3 separate regions of the Homo sapiens genome follow, and all the other regions are reported to be linked to region 1. Evidence: microRNA targets listed by miRTarBase, many of them from high-throughput screens and not tested one by one. Region 1 holds a microRNA gene; each other region holds the end of a gene's coding sequence.
Evidence for each region. Region 1 holds the annotated microRNA hsa-miR-548as-3p (UAAAACCCACAAUUAUGUUUGU, at 1,377-1,398, opposite strand). A microRNA usually pairs through its seed, bases 2 to 8, with sites in the 3' UTR of a target mRNA and lowers its output. Matches are read on the target gene's strand: a 7mer-m8 pairs with bases 2 to 8, a 7mer-A1 pairs with bases 2 to 7 and ends in A, and an 8mer does both.

Region 1 (3,357 bases):
GAATAAATGTGAAATCCCATTTATTCACAAAAATCTCCTGACCAAATGAATGTGAAGAACGTGCTGCCGATGTGTGTTGAGAAAATCTTTGCTTTACCATGAGAAAATATTGATCAAATATGTTTCTATAGCATCAAAACAAAAACTACCCATCTTAATATGTGTATAAAACATGAAAATGCCTATTAATTGCACATTTCTAAAATATAATAGTTTTACAAGTGTGTCAAAAAGTTGACTGAATTATATAAAGTAATTCTGGTTCTTCCTTTTCTTTATTAGTCCCTATTTTTGTGGACTTGAAGACTAAAAAAATCAGATCTTTTTTTCTGTATAGCTTGTAATTATGGAGAATGTTTCAAAACAAATTAAAATAGCACTTCACATATCAAGGACATCTCAGAATCATTTTCAAGTTTAAATTTTTAATTAACATGGATCTGATAGTAAACCATTAGCATAGGTTTAATTCTGAAATAATCAGCAATTGAGTACACATCTCCTGACAAGAAAACATAATAAATTTCTGATTTGTCACTAAGCAGAAACTTGGTTCCATATAGTAACGAGACCATCTGAGTCCTTCTCAGTTTCCATAGGTATCTGTCTTTGTTCTACCTCATTCTGTACCCCCTGCATGTGATGGAGTTGACAGTTATTCCTGTATAAATTTTACAAGGCTTCTTTCATGATAAGTACAAAGATTTCCACTGTAGTTTTCTTGCCTCCAATAATTAGCTTGGATTTATTGAACTACTATTTATACTAGTATAGGTTCAACCCAATATATCTTTTCAGTCAATTATTTTTAAGAAAATTTTTAGTTCATTATCTGTTACACGGTTAATTCCTTCCTATGTCCCTATGCTTTTCAAATATAAGATAATATTAGAATTAGTCATAAAAATGAAGAGGTGAAAAACACTTTAAAATTTACAAAACACTTTTATATCTTTTATATACGTTAGTCACTGTGACCCTAAACAGACCACTGGGACAAACACCATTTATATGTTTATTTTAGAACTCAGGATACTGAGGCTTACCAAAGTGTTTACTATTATACAACCATTAAGTGGTAGAGCCAGTCTTCCACCTCTAAAGGCTGGGTGGATACTTAATGTCCCTTTACAATGTATAGCAAGGATACTGATTAGAGAGCCATCATTTTTGATGAGGTTTTATACATTTTTCTACCTGTAAGTTAATCTCGTGTTCATTTATTTATTTGGAAAACATTAAGATTTTAAAATATGCACAACACTAAACATTAGGGACACTAAAAATTATTTCTGTTAGTGAAAAAATAGATATAATAATACAATGAAAAGTGGCAGAATCTAGACGATAATGAGATTGCTTAGGATCAGGCTGGTACAAACATAATTGTGGGTTTTACCATTAAAAGCAACGGCAAAACCCGCAATTACTTTTGCACTGACCTAATAATTCACAAAGAACCGAGAACAATTCAGCTTGGAGTTTTCGGGAAACAATGCGCTGAAAAGTTTAACTGCACATTATAGATAAATTTTTTAAAATGCACAAGAAGAGTATGTAAACAGACATTCTAAGAGGAAGAAGCACATGTTAAAAATAAAAACTTACATATAATGTTTAGGGACAAATATGTCATAATGAAGTTCCACAGAATCATTTAAAATCCTGCCAAGAAACTTGCCCTATATTTTATCCTTTTAGAAGCTGACTTTTTTTTTTTCTGTTTGCAATATGACCATATTTTTTGTTTTTTACATTCAACCAAGAGTTCCTTCCTGGCTTATGAATAGGTGAATCAAGCCTTAGTCCCAGCTCTGTCTGTACCTCCAACTACTGTAGATATTTTGTGTGTCTAGACAAACAAAAGAACGTGGTGATATTTCTTCATCCATACTGTAGGGAATGTGGAGAAAGTAAATTAATATTCTGAGTTCTTCTGAAAGTAGTAATGGCAAGCTTAATGGCAAACTCTAGGTGAGTTTCTGAGAGCAGCCCTGCCTCAGGTATCCACGTGGGTATCTCTCACTTCCTTCAGTTATCTACTCCAATACCACCTTTCGAGTAACCCTGTCCATATCCCTCAACTAAAATAACAACATCAGCACTCCATCTCATCTCACAATTTTTATGCAAATTACCTTGCCTAATTCTTCTCCACGTGTCTCATCAATATCTGACACATGATGTATTTACTGGTTTGTTTTCTGCCAGTATTCTGTTTCCCCGTTAGAATAGAAACTCCATGAGGACAGAGAATTGGTGAGTCACAAGATGTATCTCTAGCAACGAAGACATAGCCCTGCACATACTAATACTTGATAAATATGTATAGGATCATTAGATAAGTGAATGGACATAGGTAAAATGTACATGAAAATGAAGGATTTTTCTTAGTTTGGTGGTTAAATCATTATTCTGTGTCATTTCATCAGAGTTTAGCAGTAGACTAGCCACCTTGAATTTCACATTCTTTCTCTACTCCATGATGCAATGTATTGTCAAAGAGAGATGAAGAGCTTGATTAAATTATTATGTGCTGATTTGTGCATAATTGAGTCAAATAGAAAATAACTGATATATTAATATTTATATGAACATCTGGGAACTTGTATATAATTCTGTCTAAACTTGAAACCATTCCCCTGAAATTTACTTGTTAAAAAAGCCCTTTCTAATGTTTTATTTGTTAGTAACTGCCTTTATTGTCAAGCCTTTAAATGCTATTGCTATGTTAGCACATTGATACACATAGACATGAACAGTTTTCCGGAGGGCAGTTTCACAAGTAGAATTAATTTTAGTCAATTTCACTTTCAAAGCTTCAAACATTATCATGAATCAAGAGAAATGCAATGCCTGCAAGAAACCACCACCTACGACACAGTATCGCTGTGAATTCTGAGCATATGCACTCTAAATACCAGGTTTTATGTCATTGCATTTCCTGTCTGGCTTTGAATGAATTCTGCCTTACAGGACTATTAGCAAACAACAAAAATGATAGCACTTCACAAGCCAAGGAATAACTAACCTACTTAAATATGTCTTCCTTTTGGATAGATTAAAAATGCCAGCAGTTAAGCAGCTGATGTATCAGCACGTATGGCAACGGAGGGATTTTTGCAGGCATATGCACTTAATCAAATATTACTTTTCCCATCACTGCCTAGAATCTATGTAATTTAATTAACTTATGCTTCAGTGGCATTTTGGAAATGAAGTGGATCTGAAGTAAGCATTGGATAGGATCTACTTAGCATTCCATCACGGAAAAGTGATGCATAAATTTAAATCTTTCGATAATATTATGCTTTGATTTAAATTGGTTTGAAAGATTTTGGACTGTTTAGTAAGTTT
Region 2 (3,000 bases), not on the chromosome of region 1:
ATCATGTTCGTCCTCTGCACCCGCGCCGTCCGAACTCGGCTCTTCTCTCTCTGTTGCTGCTGCTGCTCTTCTCAGCCTCCCACCAAGAGCCCGGCTGGCACTCCCAAGGCTCCCGCGCCTTCCAAGCCAGGAGAATCTCAGGAATCCCAAGGGACCCCAGGGGAACTTCCAAGCACCTGAGCTTTTGTCCTTTCTAGTTCTGTGCATAGGTGCTGCCTTCCTGGGGGTAGGCACTTCTGTGAGTCCCTGCTGCAGGGGCAGAAGTGCATGTCTGCTGCACCAGAAGCCCCCGCTATTGATGCTCTCGGCTCCATTGGGAGAGCAGCTGCCAACTCAGCTTCTTCTACCTCCTAGATCCTCAGGCAGCAAGTTCCACCGGTACCAGCGTCCTGGCCCACGGGTGGGCGTTCATCTGCATAAGGGTAGCAGTGAGATTCGGGAAGCCGGTGGCCCACAGCTGTGGCCACAGTGCCCCCACCCAGTGGACCTTGATGTCCTGAGGACCACACAGCACTGTTTACAATCTGAGGGACCCACATCTGTGCACCTATCCTCTGTGTGATTAAATAAGCTGTCAGGGGCCCTCAGAGATGTGTCCCCATCCACACATCATGGAGCAGATTCCCGGCTGGTCAGGGTGTTAAGATTCTCTGGAGAACCCGGCTTTCCTTGGAGACTTTGCTCAACAGAGGAACCAGTTGCCATTCACCAGGTTGAAGGTTCCCCTGAGGTTGCATGGTGACCACCAGGGGCAAGCACAGCCCGGCGCAGCTGCTCAGGGACAGCAGTCTCCCCGGGCCTCCTGGCCTCTCCCTCCATGGGCTGCTAACCCTTGCCGTAGCTTGGGTTTGAGTGTCAAGCACAGGCCAGAATCCACACTCCTGTCCCCACCTGTCAATCACTTCAGACACAGGTTCCCTCCTTCCAATTCCAAAGCTGGAACAAGGGCAGGAAGAGGCGTCTCAGGGAACCCCCGAAGACCCCACTGTCTCTCCAGCTCCTTTCTTAGAATCCTCCTCTTCTTGGGGAGACCAAAGGGGATGAGTAGGGAGGGGTTCTGGCTTATTTACTTCTTAGTTTAGTTTTTTGTAAGTAAAGTGGCCGGAGAGATGAGTAATCCAAATACGATTCCTCAGGCCGGGCACAGTGGCTCACACCTGTAACCCTAGCACTTTGGGAGGCCAAGGCAGGCAGATCACCTGAGGTCAGGAGTTCAAGACCAGCCTGGCCAACATGGTGAAACCCTGTCTCTACTAAAAATACAAAAATTAGCCAGGCATGGTGATGCACGTCTGTAATCCCAGGTCTTTGGGAGGCTGAGGCAGGAGAATCTCTTGAACCTGGGAGGCGGAGGTTGCGGTGAGCCAAGACCACACCATTGCACTCCAGCCTGGGCAACAAGAGTGAAACTCGGTCTCAAACAAACAAATACGATTTCTTCCTAAAGGTGAAGGTTTTAAGCTTCAGAGTCAGTTTTTTTTTTTTTTTTTTTTTAAAAAAGGAGCCTCATTCTGTCGCCCGGAGCTGATGTGGTGGTGCGTGCCTGTAGTCCCTACTACTCAGGAGGCTGAGACGGGAGGATCCCTTGAGCCCAGGGATTTGAGGCTTCATTGAACTGGGATGGCACCACTGCCACTCCAGCCTGGGCAACAGCAGGACCCTGTCTCAAAAAAAGAAAAAAACAAAGGATTCAAAAGGATTCAGCTGTTTTGTATTCAGCTGAGGTAAGTGGCGGCATGGAGCATGGAGCGATTATTTACATTTAAAAGAAAAGAATTGAAAGTAAGCACCTGTATCTCTATTTTTATTCTGTGGGTCTTCCACAAACGCTTTCGTCTTATTTCAGAAAACAGCTTCTGTGTTCAGTCACAGGAGCCATCGGCAAAGAATGGAAGTGGAAATGCTACCTCCAGGGTCTTGGTGAGAGAAAGTACAGCTTTACCTGATAGGTGATTTCCCTTGGAATCCATCAGAACTCGACAAAGCATGATTTTCTGAGCCTAGTAAAATGGTTCTGAATCAAAACCGAAGTCACGCTGTGCTGCCGATCCCTGTTTGACTCTCAAAACCAAAATCTGTATCAGGAAAGGAATAATCATTTAGCAGACTGAGTCCAAAATGCTCATTTTTGGTTTCCTGTGAAAATGGATTTCTTTTTGTCGCTTTCTTTTTTTTTTTTTTTTTTTTTGAGATGGAGTCTCACTCTATTGCCCAGGCTGGAGTGCAGTGGTGCAATTTTGACTCACTGCAACCACCGCCTCCCAGGTTCAAGCGATTCTCCTGCTTCCCAATCCCAAGCTGCTGGGATTACAGGCATGCGCCACCATGCTCGGCTAATTTTTTGTATTTTCAGTAGAGACGGGTTTTCACCATGTTGGCCAGGCTGGTCTCGAACTCCTGACCTCAGGTGATCCACCCACCTCAGCCTCCCAAAATGCTTCGATTGCAGGCATGAGCCACTGTGCCTGTCCAAGAAAACAGATTTCTTGATGGAAATTAGTGAGACAGACATCCCCTTAGGATTGAAAGAGAGCTCTGGGCTGCTCCAGGGAAAGCCACTTGGCAGAAATAGCCTCTGTAAGTGAATTCTGGATTCCCCTGAAGACGTTACAGCAAATCTCTGGGTATGTCTCTGGTAAAGACCCTCACTTGAGCTTCTAGAAGGGAGCGAAAATTCAGGAATTTGCTTGCTGCAAAAGAGAACATGATTAACAGGTAAAAGAGAAAAGACAATATAGGCCACAGAGGAATAGTGTTAGGATCAACCCTGCTCAGCAGGGGCCTCTGGAGCCCTCCCTGCTGTACCCAAGCCAGAGCTGAGACATGGCTCCCCAGATGGACTGGCTGTGGTCAGGAAAGGCCTGTAGAGGGAGCTGAGGGCTCAGAAAATACCTGCTCCGGGTGCCTGGGCTCAAGTTCTCATTCCATTTCTTTGATGCCACTGGCCACTGTATCTGCTTTTGTAAAAACCTCCAAAAAGTTATACATCAGGTATCTCTA
Region 3 (3,357 bases), not on the chromosome of region 1:
AGGGCAAAACAGGAGATGAGGAAATGTTAAAGGATAAAGGAAAGCCAGAGAGTGAGGGAGAGGCAAAAGAAGGAAAGTCAGAGAGGGAGGGAGAGTCAGAGATGGAGGGAGGATCAGAGAGAGAGGGAAAACCAGAGATAGAGGGAAAGCCAGAGAGTGAAGGAGAGCCAGGGAGTGAAACAAGGGCTGCAGGAAAGCGCCCAGCTGAGGATGATGTACCCAGGAAAGCCAAAAGAAAAACTAATAAGGGGCTGGCTCATTACCTCAAGGAGTATAAAGAGGCCATACATGATATGAATTTCAGCAATGAGGACATGATAAGAGAATTTGACAATATGGCTAAGGTGCAGGATGAGAAGAGAAAAAGCAAACAGAAATTGGGGGCGTTTTTGTGGATGCAAAGAAATTTACAGGACCCCTTCTACCCTAGAGGTCCAAGGGAATTCAGGGGTGGCTGCAGGGCCCCACGAAGGGACATTGAAGACATTCCTTATGTGTAGTGTCCCTGGCAGGCATTTACCAGGCCATGTGCTTTAACGTTACGGTAATACTTTACTTTAGGCATCCCTCCTGTTGCTAGCAGCCTTTTGACCTATCTGCAATGCAGTGTTCTCAGTAGGAAATGTTCATCTGTTACATGGAAAAAATGTTGATGGTGCATTGTAAAATTAAAAAACACAACTTGCAGAACCAAATATATGGCATCAGTACATTTTTGTAAAACTACAAAGATACTTACCTAGTAATATAGTATAGAAAACAATTCTGAAAGCTGTGTCCACTAAAAGATTAACAGTGGTTATCTCTGGGTGATTTTTTCTGTTCTTTTTTGTTCATCTGTCCATTTTTCTCCTAAAAACAGATTTCTTTAGTCATAAAAATAATAAAATATAAAGTATTGGAAAACAGTGAATATTTGAATTTCATTCATTTGAATAAGCATTCAAATGAACTGCCCAGTGAACTTATAAAGACAGTGGATATACTTAAAATTCTTGTGAGGACATAAAATGATAGGTAAAAGTTGCATTACCTCTGGGACTGGAAGCTGGAGGAGTCAACTCGATGGTTATTACAGAGCCATTGCTGTAAGGGACAGCCTTGACATCTGTGAAATGGGGATAAAATTAGCCTAGACATGTGGAGAAGATCAAATGAGGTATTGAGTGTGTGAGCTGTGTTAGGCTGGCTCCTACTCTCTCCCCTTGCACTAGCAGAACCAGTGCCCAGTCAGATACTTGGGAAGGGCTGAAGGAGGGTCTCACCTGTGCCCAGAAATAAGTCCAGACAGCTGAGAGATGGGTGCCACTCTTCCTGGGTAATGCCATACTTGAAAGGTAGTGTGCCCCTTCTCATGGATCCTGCACCCTCCTAAGGCCCCAGCTGCTGCTGGTGGGCTGAAGACCATGATGGACTAAGCAACACTGTCCCAACAGAAAAGTGGAGAATTCCCTCTCTACCTACAATAGAATTATCCTAACTCAGGTTGTTAGTACCCAATTGTCACTTGGGCCTTGATGTTTTATGAAGTTTTTACAAAACACTGCTTTCCATGTTTTTTGTTGATTTGTGTATATTTTTGCATATAGCCGTTTCCACCGGATTTAGATAGTGGAGATTGAGCCAGGAGGAAAAGCTGAGTGACGAGATGGTGTGCTATTCTCATTTGTTAATCTCTAGTCTGCTAACACTTTTTTCTTAGGAATTGTCTCCCAGGAAATTTCTGTTAAGCCCTGCTTTACTATTTCAACAGACCCATCTACCTATGTGATTTTTTCCCCCTGGCTCTTGAGTAGCTTTTTATTTCCTTACAGTATTTTTTTTTAATAAACTTTTAGGATGGTTTTAGATCTACACAATTATTGCAAAGATAGTACAGAGTATCCCATATGCACTGTCCCCTATTATTAACATCTTACATTAGTATGGTACATTTGTCACTGTTAACCAATATTGATACATTATTATTAACTAAAGTACGTACTTTATTTGGATTTCCCTTAATGTCCTTTTTCTGTTCCAGGATCCCATTCAGGTTACATTTAGTCGTCATGTCTCCATAGGCTCCACTTAGCTGTGAGAGTTTTTCAGACTTTGCCTGTTTTTGATGACCTTGACACTTCTACGAAGTATTGGTCAGGTATTTTGTATAATGTCCCAAAACTTGGGTTTGCTTGTCTTGTGATTACACAGGCATTATGTGTTTTGGGAAGAAGACCAGAGGTAAAATGCCATTCTCATCATATAAAGGGGACATACCATCAATATATTTACCACTGTTCTTATCCTTGGTAACCTGACTGAAGTAGTGTTTGTCAGGTTTCTCCAAGGTTAAGTTTTATTTTTCCCTTTCCATACTGTATTCTTTGGAATAAAGTCACTATTGGCAGCCCACACTTAAGGAGTAGGGCATTATTACCTCCTTGAAGGCAGAGTATTGACAAAAATTATTTGGAATCCTTCTGCAGAGGATATTTGACTCTTATTCCCCACTTATTTATATATTCAGTTTATTTGTATCAATGTAGACTCATGACTATTTTATACTTTGGATTAACGCAATACTACTTTACATGTTTTTGCTCAAATTGTTCCAGCTTTGGTCATTGGGAGCTTTCAGTTGGCTCCTGTATTCATTTGACACGCTTCCATTGTTATGTTGTAGAGGGTTTTTTTTTTTTTTTAGTATTTACTTACATTCTGGCACTACAAGATGCTATAGCTTTATCTTTCATATTGCCCAAGTCCTAGAATTAGCCATTTCTCCAAGTAGCCCTGGTATCTTATGTTGGAGAATGGTGTTAGAAAAACAAGATCTGGGTGCTAGACATACTGATTGCTGCTGAAATATAATTGCTTCTAGGCCCTCTCAGTTGACATAGCAAAAAGATATATGTGTATATAATACCCATACATATATAAAGTATTTATGGAAATATAAATATTTCTGTATATAACCATCTGTATTTATATAAGGCTAAACATAAATTTATACTAGTGTCTCCAACTACAGTCTATTACTGCATGGATCATTCTAGCCTCCCCTTGCTTATTTGTAACCTTCTACTCCAACTGTGAGAAACCTGTCTCCTACTATCTGCCATCCATTTTACTAATTGTTTATTAATTATATAAATATATAGTGGCTTCAAAATTGTAAACCTGTGCCCCTGTGGAAAACAACTTTATCAACTGGAGTAGAGTGCTATGTACAGTTCCTTTTGCCTTTGGTCTTACAGACTCCACTCATTTCCAAATTTACCTATGTCAGTACCTTATTCCCCCATCCCTTTCAGTGAGATTGTTTCATACATTTGTGATACATTAAAATTCTTTTCTCACATTCTGCATTTGGGG

Region 2: miRTarBase lists GPR157 as a target of hsa-miR-548as-3p. Seed matches in the 3' UTR shown: 7mer-A1 at 1,453-1,459 and 7mer-m8 at 2,361-2,367.
Region 3: the mRNA of TCEAL4 is a reported target of hsa-miR-548as-3p. The part of its 3' UTR that is shown has no 7-base or 8-base seed match.

Annotation. Positions count from the first base shown.
Region 1 is chr13:92,488,240-92,491,596 of GRCh38, reverse strand. It overlaps MIR548AS (microRNA 548as), which reads right to left and starts at 1,434; the gene lies at 1,377-1,434. All of the region lies in intron 7 of GPC5 (glypican 5), which reads right to left. All of the region lies in intron 1 of GPC5-IT1 (GPC5 intronic transcript 1), which reads right to left.
Region 2 is chr1:9,101,599-9,104,598 of GRCh38, reverse strand. GPR157 (G protein-coupled receptor 157) reads left to right here. Exons shown (of 4, transcript NM_024980.5): 4 at 1-3,000. The coding sequence ends at 180. Among named protein-coding and RNA genes, the nearest start is that of GPR157, 26 kb to the left of the region's middle. RefSeq lists an enhancer at 1-500.
Region 3 is chrX:103,586,824-103,590,180 of GRCh38, forward strand. TCEAL4 (transcription elongation factor A like 4) reads left to right here. Exons shown (of 3, transcript NM_001006935.3): 3 at 1-906. The coding sequence ends at 500. Among named protein-coding and RNA genes, the nearest start is that of TCEAL4, 3.0 kb to the left of the region's middle.